Linked DNA regions of Homo sapiens. The protein of the gene in region 1 interacts with the protein of each later gene in a pairwise test. Each region holds a gene or a part of one and is shown in the gene's direction. Other genes may lie near its edges.

Region 1 (3,659 bases):
AGGAGAAGAAAGAGTAAAGTCAGGCCTCAGCCAGCCTCTTTTTAGCTCTTTAAATCCTCTGGATTTAAGAGGGATAAAGGGTGGAATAAGGATAAATTAATGCCAATTGTAATGCCTTAAATTTGTGTGATACCTTACAACTTGAAACATATTCACAAAACTATATATTTGAATATCTCATTAGCTGAGTAAGGTAGCAAATCATAATTAACTTTTTCCATTTTATTGATGGGAAAGCTGAAGTTCAATGAAGTAAATTTTTCAATAGCCCACAGAGTAGGAAAGTGACAAAACCTGAGCCTGGGCCTCCAGGTCACTCAAGGACACTTTCTTTCTTCCACACCCAATTGCTTCATGCTTAAAGTTGGCAAAACAGGAAGTGAAACTCCTGCAGTTTTCTGTGTGGTTGACACTAGCAAGGGTTTCTCAGTTGAAGCCATGAATCATTAAGCCAATACATATGCATATATGTTATACATACCAAATGATTTATTTATAACCCTATCTTTCCATAAAGGACTTGAAGGAGCTTCAAACAAAGGATATGTGAACAATAGGGTTAATCAATAATAAGTAGAAAATCTGGACATAGAATAAAAAGAGGAGAGAAAGACACCGAGAATGAGCGTTAATACAGTGCTTTCCATTTTTCTGGTGTTTTGAGTAGCGTGGCTTTTGGAGAAAGCCAAAACTCAAATTCACTCCTTATCAACTGTGTGCCTTGGGCTCCATTTCTCTGAGAGTCTACTTAGCTCCAATGTAAAATAAGAATAGAACTATGACTTTGTAAGGTTGCTCTAAGGATTGAAAATCATGTATTATGTTCAATACGGGGACACTGTCCTTATGGGTGAGTACTCCCCTAAGACTTTATTAAGAGGGCACTAGGAGAAGCACTGGGAGGTCTTCTCAGTAACAACACTAAAGTAATTGCTATTTTTCCAGCCTGTGGAACCACAGAAGTGACTGTAACTAAAATTAGACATTTCTTTCTGATTCATTCTCTACTCACGGGATTGTCAGACCCCAGTCTTCTTCTGGACTCTATAAACTTTTTAGAAATCATCAGCAGGCTCCTGGAGAAGCTTAAATGAACTCACACAATATGTGACAGTGAACTCCCTGGGAGAGTGAAAACCAAAGTCTAAGCCAGTGTCTCCATTTACTTGTGTGATTGTGGGCAAGTCATTCAAGTGCTTTGAGGCTCAGGTCTTAATTCATGAAATGGAGGTAATAATACCTTGTTGGCAGACCTCACTTGGTTAAAATGATAATGTTGATAGTTACAATAGTTACATTTAATTGATCAATTGTTTTATGCAAGGGCTTTATTTGTGCTATCTCAGTTTGTCACATCAATGAATTAGAAAGATACGAAAGTATTTCCAATTTACAAATGAGGAGTCTGAGTCTGGGAGTCATTCTGTCATGTGTCCACTGTCACCTGCTCATTGGTGGCAGCACTGAGATTAGGATCTAAGTCCACTTCACCGCAGAAGCAGGGCTTCTAAATACTGTTCTATGGCAAGAGCACCCTGCTCTCACAAAATGCATAAAACTTCCTATCTCACCATTATAATTTTGACTGATATTAAACAAAGAGAAGTATTATTATTATTACTTGTTTTTATTTATATTACAGCTGTAAGAGCCAGGAAAAATGTGATCTAAGTTATGTGATCAAAGATTTTTTAACAGTGAACAAATCAGGCCCACTAGATGATGGCCTTTCTTTGAACAACATGCCTAGGGTTGCTCTATCATGTCTACAGTTGGTCTGACTTCCTGACGGGCATCACAGACTTGTGATTAAACACAGAGGTTATGGGGGAAGTTCCAAAAGCTTAGGACTTTCCAGATGGTTGGAATAAGATCACACACTCTGGCTGCCCTTATGGAGATCACCGAACTTTTCAACTCAAAGTAAAATCTGTGGAGTAAATGGTCGATCAAAAGGAACCAACTATATTGAGCACCATGCGTGATCATCTGATCGTTACTGCTACCTTGTGAGTTAAAGGCTACTCTTCTCATTTTAGAAATGAGAAAAGAGATGCCCAGAGAGGACGAGTAACTTGCCTTAGGTCACACAGCTTATATTAATCACAATAACATTTGCCGCACCTTCTGTATTTTTTTTAAGTTGCTAAGCTTTTGGTGCATGTCTGGCACCGTTTTAGTTGTATATTATTTCATTTAATTGTTAAAATGACCTTCTGATGCAGGTATTTGTAGCTTTGCCATTCCACAGATGAAGAAACAGATGAAAGGACTGAATTGTTCAATAGGAAGGAGCAGAATCAGGATATGAACTTGGGTTGGCCTGATTCTTGGGGCTGCATTCTTTCCATAACATAATTGCTTGCTGTGATGTCCTGGGCTACTCTGCCAGGGGTGGTTAGTGGAGTGAATGGAGAATAATTTAGACAAGGTCAGTAACTCCCATGCCATCTAGAAATTAAAAGTTTAAAAGGCAGAGTCTGCAACTCTCCTTGATTTCTACAGAAATAAAGATGATCCCTCCTGTGACAGTGCTAAGTGACAATTCTGAGTGTAAATGCGCTTTTTGGCACAAATTGTCCTGTCCTAATAGTCTTGATTATAATTATAAAATAATGGGTTTCTGAAAGGCTGCAAGCAGTTCTGGGAATGGCAATAAAGGTTTAGAAATGACGTGATGTTTATGAGAGAAGTGTTTTGTTGAAAATTAAACTCACGTTTAGGAGAAAGGATTGTGTTGTATGCTCCTAGGAAACTATCTCACTATGTAATTAAATCAAAACCAGCCAGTTACCAATTTGAGCTCTTGACTCATACTAACAACACCCCATTTCCCATGGGCCAAGCAAGGCAGGACTGACCTGAAATAACCCAGCCTGACTCTATCCACAGCCACCCCAGGACCTTGCCCCTCCGTCTTCCTAGGGCTCGGCCGTGAGATGCTAGTGCATGACCCTTCCTCTTCCTGGGACTGTCCTTGTCTTTCCCTTTGGACTCTGGGAGGTCTGTTCTCCTCCTCAGAAAGGAATAAACACTCTTTCTATTTGTGGGATTCCCTAGGAGACACTATATAAAAATATAGAGTTAAAAAAACTATTTAAAAAAAAGACAACTTCATGTCTCTACTCTGACTTCATTCTTTTTAAGATGGGTAACAAAGACTCTCTTCAAGGTTAGAAAATTTTATTTTAATTTTTATAGATTTAGAGAGTGCAAATGCAGTTTTGTTACATGAATATATTGCATAATGGTTTAGTCTGGGCTGTTAGCGTAACCATCAACTGAACAGTGTACTTTGTACCTATTAGGTACTTTCTCATCCCTTAACCCCTTCCCACCTTTCTGAGTCCTCAATGTCTGTTATTTCATTCTCCATGTCCATGTCTACAAATTATTTAGTTTCCACTCATAAGTGAGAGCATGGATGGAACTGGAGAAGAGTATTTTCTATCCCAAGATCGGTTCCTTGATCTTGTGTCTCCAAATCACTTGCTCTCTCTCTTACATCTTTTCTATCTTCTTCTAGCCTCTTTTTGCAAACTTCATTTTGACAAAGAATTCCAGGCAGTCTACAGCTGATTTTATTTCAATACAACGATTAAAATGGAAACCATATATGAAGATGACAAAGTTGAGCAGGTCCCAAACTCTCACTTTTA
Region 2 (3,659 bases), on another chromosome or scaffold:
TGAACTTGGATACTGTATAACTGAATTTCAAATTTAATTTGGTGGTAAGTCAGATATGATTAAGATCACATATGCACAGAAACATAAACCAACAAATTTGGAAAACATTTAAACTATGTTTCACCTCTCTACTTCCATCCCACTTCACTGCTTCTGCTTGAATAACAGACAGGGTAATGAGCTTCAAGGACTGCTGACACATAGGGCTCAATAAATATTGATCAAGGGAATGAAGAAAAAAAATGATAAAAGGACCAAATGGAAGACTAGGAGCATAAAGGATAAGAAACAGATTCAAGAAAGGAGAGGTTGTTATAAATTAGTTTTTAAGAACACACAAGTATAATTATAGTGAGTTGATATTTGAGCTATCTGGTAAGTATTCTCCATTTTACCAAGAGTCACTGTGGACAGGAATGGTCTTTCTACATGCTGAGAGATAAAATATGACTTATAAACTTCTCAGTAATTATCTGTTATGAATTTTCCAGTCATTAATTTATCTAAGCTATTTTGGAATAGGTATTTTCAGTCTGTATATTACCTTTTATTGGAAAAGAAACTCCTTCTACAGTTTTACTATCTATGAAGTAGTGTTTAATTTTATGTCCTAGGCTTATCTTTTCTAATCTTATAATAAGTGTTGCATTATTTCATAGAGTAACAATTTGCAGGCACTTTTCAAATTGCAAAGAAATGCAGTATAACAAAGAGATAGAATTAATTTTTAAATAAATATTGCTGGTTCTGATGTTTTACATTTTTAAGAACTATATGTTATTAACTTAGCATCTTAGAGTGATGCATCTTAGAACTTAGCAAACACTTGGTCCCACTGGTATACGCATGTGGGATTCCTGAAGAGAGTCAAGGTATATTATAAGTCTCTTTTAGGTGGATTTTAGGTTTGTAAAAATCATGATGTTATTTCTGGAAATGTATTTCATTGTACCATTTAAAATGCAAATAGAAACAATACTTTCATGGCTGAACATTTTGATAATAGCTTTGAGTATAAAGTTGCTGTCATTCGTCTGTGAAATGTAAGGTAATAACAAAGTTGTACTAGTACAGGAAGGACCCACAGAATATGGTCCATTTATTGGAAGACACAGACAATGAGAAACAGTTAATTCTTAGTAATTGCTTGAAAATCTCTATTTTCTATTGAAGAATGACTTTTTATTCAAATGTTTACTTATACCTGTGATATGCCAGGAATTTTACAAATGTTTTGTTTAAGCTGGGAAACTGTTCTCTCTGTTTTACATACAAGGAAATATGGGCTGAGGAAGCTGTATGACTCGCTGAAATACCTTTTAATGGTCAGTGTCAGAGCTAGGATTTGAATACAGCCCTGTCTGACCTCTGCTTTTTCATCATACTACGTAGCTTTTCTAAACGACTTCACTGGTCCATGTCAGATACTTATACTACTGGTTAGTATTAATTTTTACCAGTGCTGCCCAACAGAAACATAAAGCAAGTCATATATATAATTTAAAGTTTTCTAGTAGCACATTAAAAAAAGGAAAAAGAAACCAGTGACATTTATTTAATAATATGTGGCCAACTAACCAGGCTGTAAAAGAGACATCAGGACATGGGTAGTCCTCTTGCTCCTCCTCTACTAAGCAGGAATTGTCAAAGGATGGGAAGTTGTGGAACTACAAAAATTATTGGTTTGGGAGGCCAAGGTGGGAGCATTGCTTGAAGCCAGGAGTTTGAGACTAGCCAGAGCAACAAAGTGAGACCCCATCTTTACAAAAATAAAAAAAATATACATATATATACACATATATACACACATATATGTATATATACACATATATACACACATATATATGTATATATACACATATATACACACATATATATGTATATATACACATATATACACACATATATATGTATATATACACATATATACACACATATATATGTATATATACACATATATACACACATATATGTATATATACACATATATATGTATGTGTATATATGTGTATATATGCACACAAACACACACACACACACACACACATATATTAGCTGGGCGTGGTGGCACATGCATGTAATTGCAGCTACTTGGAAGGCTGAGGCAGGAGGATTGCTTGAGCCCAGGAGTTTGGAGGCAGCAGTGAGCTATGATTGGGCCACTGCATTCCAGCCTGGGTGACACAGCTAAATAAATAAATAAATATTTAAATAAATAAATTTATTTATTTATTTATTTAAATAAATAAATAAAATTGGTATAGAACTATAAAAATCTCCCTGACTTCTGTCTCATCTTCTGAGTTTTCTGAAGGTGGGAATCTTTGAGAATGAAGGTGAAAGTATTTACTTCTCAGAACTAGAGTATCCACTTTTATTTCTGGGTTATTATTCTCGTAATAAAATTAAAGAGTAAAAAAAATACATACGAATTGATAGAAAAAATAAGATCTTAATTGCTAGAAGATAAAATATAACATTGGGATTAATATGTTTTATTGGGGGTTCTCATCATGATTATCCTTCCCCAGACTGGTCTGATCCAGAGTGGAGGCAACGTGGTCATGGCTGGTTTATGCCTGAGTTAATGTGCTAATCAGACTGTGCACTTCCTAGGAGATGTTTAATTGTGACATGTCATGAGTTTTGGAATCTTAAAATTAGCTAAGAGGAAAAAAAAATCTATTGAGAGAAGCCAAAATGAACACCGAAACAAGCAAACCAACAAACCAAACAATAGCCTGCTCCACTCCCCCATGGCAACCTTTTAAATAAGTCACTTCATTGATTGCTTAAGATTAAATCCATTTTCATTTATTTATTTTCAAGAATGGAAAATGTAGTTGCCTGAACTTTATAGAAATTAGTAACAGGTTGTGTTCAACTCTCAGAAATGTAGTTTTCTTTTCTTTTTTTGGAAATATTGGAGCAGTTTAACTCAAAACACCATTTATAGGAGCTCTTGAATTCATGTTTACCTGTTTTGAGTTGCGTTTTTTACATTTTAATAATTAAAGAATATCATGTAATTCCCATAAACATTTTAACTTGAAAAGAGAATGATTTTATGATATCAGATTCAATGTGTCTTAGTTATATATATATATTCAATGTGTCTTAGTTATATATATTATATTTTTCCCTCCAAACTATTCAATTTCAAACTAGTTATTCACATGGTGTCAGGATAAGATTTTAATTTTTATTTTGCTTTTATTCACAAATATTGTTTTAGATCTGCTGCATGATCTTGAAGCTTTTTTTAAACTTTTATTGAAATATCTATGCTCTTGAGCATTCAGATTCTTTCTAGTGAAACACTGGGATTATCTTTCTTTAGTCAATCATTATCCATTAGAAACATTAACTAATTTACCCTCTCAAGAGTCCTAGAAGTTATATCATAACATTTTACAGAGACAGAAATCTGATGTCATGTGAATTTCTTAAGGTCAGAGACTGGAGTCTCTGGACAAATGGATCTAGGATTTTAAGTCAATGTTAGTTTCACAGCTGGCCTGGGCAGCTTTAATTCTGCTGAGAATGAATATATGATCCCTGTTACTTTCAGAAGAGATTTGGTCATTAAATCCTAATTATACAGACTGTAAAATCACTAGCTAGAGTTGCTCAGGCACATGTTATGATAACAATTCAGG
Region 3 (3,659 bases), on another chromosome or scaffold:
AAACCAGAAAATTGGGTGAGAGAACCGTGAGCGATTCTCTTTTCTTCCTGACTTCCTTTGTTTCCCATATTTTCTGTAATGGGCAATACTTGATAACTGAAGAAAATCCTAATTGTTGTTGCCTAGGCCATGTTTCCTGACTCTGGTTCTATGGCCATGGTGAATAACAGCTCCAGTCTTTGACAGAGGAAGAAGTTTTTGGAGCCACTCGTTCAACAACTGTGCTAGGCATTGGAAATACAACTATAAGTAAGAAAAGAGGCCAGGCACAGTGACTTACGACTGTAATCTCACCACTTTGGTGAGTGTCGGGGGGGTGGATCACCTGAGGTCGGCATTTCAAGACCAACCTAAGATGGCGAAACCTCATCTCTACTAAAAATATAAAATTAGCTGGGCATGGTGGCAACATGCCTGTAACTTGGGAGGCTGAGACAGGAGAATCACTTGAACTCTGGAGGGGATGTTGCAGTGAACTGAGATTGCACCATTGCACTCCAGCCTGGGCAACAAGAGCAAAACTTCGTCTCAATAAAAAAAAAAAAAGTAACTTGGAATGGGAAAATAAAGATTTTTTCCCCCCTTGAACTGTATTTTATTAATAAGCACTGCATTTCCTGTGTACTTGTGATTACAATGCAGCTATTTTGATGGTATTTACCATATACAAAGTGGCTTCTCATTTTTCAACATAGCCTTGTAATGTAAGAATAGCTATTTTGATTTTTCTGTTTCGCAGGTAACAGTTAATAAAAATAGCACAATGTCACACTTAGTATATATCAGGCACTGTGCTAAAACTTCATGTAATTCAACTGATTTAGTTTTTAAAAAGTTTTTATTTTTTAAAATTAATGAATTTTTTTGGAGGTAGGTTCTCCCTCTGCCGCCTATGCTGGAGTGCAATGGTGCTATCATAGCTTACTTGCAGCATTGAACTCCTGGGCTCAAAGGATTCTCTTGCTTCAGCAACCACAGTAAAGCTGGGACTTGGGCACATGCCACTCTACCTACCCGCAACTAATTTTAAAACAACTGTATTCTCATTTTACAAATGAGGAAATTGGCCTAGGAGATTGAACAATTTATCTGGAGCCACCGATTGACTAAATGGGAAACCAAGATTTAAACATAGGCAGTATTATCCGAAGCCCAGATTAAAAGACTTGAGTGTCAGAGAGTTAAATGACCTGATACAGAGACTTACATTTAGTTAAGAGTAGAAATTCCATCATCAGAATTCTTTTCTTCTCACAGGTTGGGGCCACTGGTGTGCCACTCATGAGGAATTTTTTGAACCGTTACTAGCAGTCTGCTTAACTACAAGCCTGACATTTCAACTAAATTAGCTGTAAAAATGACTCACATCTCCCTTTGATTTTCAGTGTAAAATTGAAGGAAGCCAGTTGTGGTCAAAGAAAAAATAAGAAATTTGGCTTGGGGCCAGGCACGGTGACTCGCCTGTTATCCCAGGACTTTGGGAGGCTGAGGCAGGCAGATCACTGAAGTCAGGAGTTCAAGATCAGCCTGGCCAACATGACAAAACCACTTCTCTACTAAAAATACAAAAATTAACCAGCATGGTGGCACGCATGTGTCGTCCCAGCTACTCAGGGAGGCTGAGGCAGGAGAATCGCTTGAACCTGGGAGACGGAGGTTGCAGTGAGCTGAGATCGTGCCACTGCACTCCAGCCTGGGTGACAAAGCAAGATTCCGTCTCAAAATTTGGCTTGAAAATAGTGTTCAAAATACTTTTTAAAAATCTGGCTGGGTGTGGTGGCTCACTCCTGTAATCTCAGCACTTTGGGAGACCAAGGCGGGGAAATCACGAGGTCAGGAGTTTGAAACCAGCCTGGCCAACATGGTGAAACATTGTCTCTACTAAAAATACAAAAAACTAGCTTGTTTGGTGGCGGGCACCCTTAATCCCAGCTATTCTGGAGGTTGAGGCAGAAGAATCGCTTGAACCCAGGAGGTGGAGGTTGCAGTGAGCTGAGATTGCACCACTGCACTCCAGCCCAGGTGACAGTGGGAGACTCTGTCTCAAAAAAAAAAAAAATCTTATTTGGGGAAAAAAAAGGACTTGATTAGATGCAGTTCAAATTTGATACCAGAGCTGTTCTTTTAAATACCATGCTACTTATTAATAACATCAATATCATTATTTCAAATGAGAGACCCAAACTTACGCTGATATATGTCAGTTTTAAAAGTGGGAATACCTGGGGCCAGGCATGGTGGCTCATGCCTGTAATCCCACCACTGTGGGAGGCTGAGGCGTGTGGATCACCAGAGGTCAGTAGTTCGAGACTAGCCTGGCCAACATGGTGAAACCCTGTGTCTACTAAAAAATACAAAAATTAGCCAGACATGGTGGCGCATGCCTGTAATCCCAGCTACTCGGGAGGGTGAGGCAGGAGAATTGCTTGAACCCGGGATGCAGAGGGTTGCAGTGAGCCGAGATCGTGCCATTGCACTCTAGCCTGGATGACAAGAGCGAAACTCTGTCTCAAAAAAAAAAAAAAAAAAAGGAATATCTTTTTTCAGTTATCAATGCTAGAAATTTCTGTTGTAAAACTTTGCTAACCTGGTTTTGATATCTGTATATTTTGATAGTATCTATAACTTCACATTCTATAAGTTGAGAAAATGCTGATATTATTTGACTATTAACTCTTTGTAGACATTTAATGAGAAGCCCCGATCTGGGGCTTACTGCCTCTGAGGCACAGTGGTTTCTCCCAGGAAGGCAAAGAAAATTGAGATTTTCTCAGAGAGGAAGGAAAGGATTGAATCGCTTAAACCTGGGAGATGGAAGTTGCAGTAAGCCGAGATCGCACCACTGCACTCCAGCCTGGGTGACACAGCAAGAAGCACATTTAAATCTTGTGTTTATAGTAATTTGGTGTTTGTGGAGATTCTTTCTTGTCTAGTTTTTTTGTAACTGTTGTCCATGGAATTTTTTCTGTTACTATGTAAGAATTTGAGGAGATTCAAAGACTATTCTGCTGTTACTACTACTGTCTTCCCAGAATTTCCTTGTGGTTTTATTTTATTTTACTTTATTTTATTGGGACGGAGTTTCACTCTTGTTGCCCAGGCTGGAGTGCAATGGCTTGATCTCGGCTCACCGCAACCTCCACCTCCCGGGTTCAAACGATTCTCCTGCCTCAGCGTCCTGAGTAGCTGGGATTACAGGCATGGGCCACCATGCCCAGCTAATTTTGTATTTTTAGTAGAGACAGGGTTTCTCCATGTTGGTCAGGCTGGTCTCGAACTCCTGAGCTCAGGTGATCCACCCGCCTCGGCCTTCCAAAGTGCTGGGATTACAGGCGTGAGCCACCACGCCCGGCCCCTTGTGGTTTTAGTTTACATTTCTCTGATGTCTCATAATGTTGGACACTTTTTCATTTATTTATTGGCCTTTTGCGTTTCCTCGGGGTACTCAGCCGTTGTTAATTCAAATTGTTTGCCCCATTTTTCCTTTGGGCAGATGTTTTTTGGTGGGGGGACAGGGTTTCACTCCCATTGCCCAGGCTGGAATGCAGTGGCGGGATCACAGCCTACTGCAACCTCCACCTCTCGAGCTCAAGAGATCTTCCCACCTCAGCCTCCTGAGTAGCTGGGACTAGGTGCCCGCTACTGCGCCTGGCTAAATT

The links.
Region 2: the proteins of TLR4 (region 1) and NOX4 interact in binary tests that used the Homo sapiens proteins (3 or more experiments, as listed by UniProt).
Region 3: the proteins of TLR4 (region 1) and RNF216 interact in a two-hybrid assay, tested with the Homo sapiens proteins (one study listed by BioGRID).

The regions. Positions count from the first base shown.
Region 1 is NC_000009.12:117,717,902-117,721,560, forward strand, and holds part of TLR4 (toll-like receptor 4 isoform A precursor), read left to right. Parts: 3' UTR 1-3,659.
Region 2 is NC_000011.10:89,484,853-89,488,511, reverse strand, and holds part of NOX4 (NADPH oxidase 4), read left to right. Parts: intron 1-3,659. UniProt on the Homo sapiens protein: NADPH oxidase that catalyzes predominantly the reduction of oxygen to H2O2. Can also catalyze to a smaller extent, the reduction of oxygen to superoxide. May function as an oxygen sensor regulating the KCNK3/TASK-1 potassium channel and HIF1A activity.
Region 3 is NC_000007.14:5,771,647-5,775,305, reverse strand, and holds part of RNF216 (E3 ubiquitin-protein ligase RNF216), read left to right. Parts: intron 1-3,659.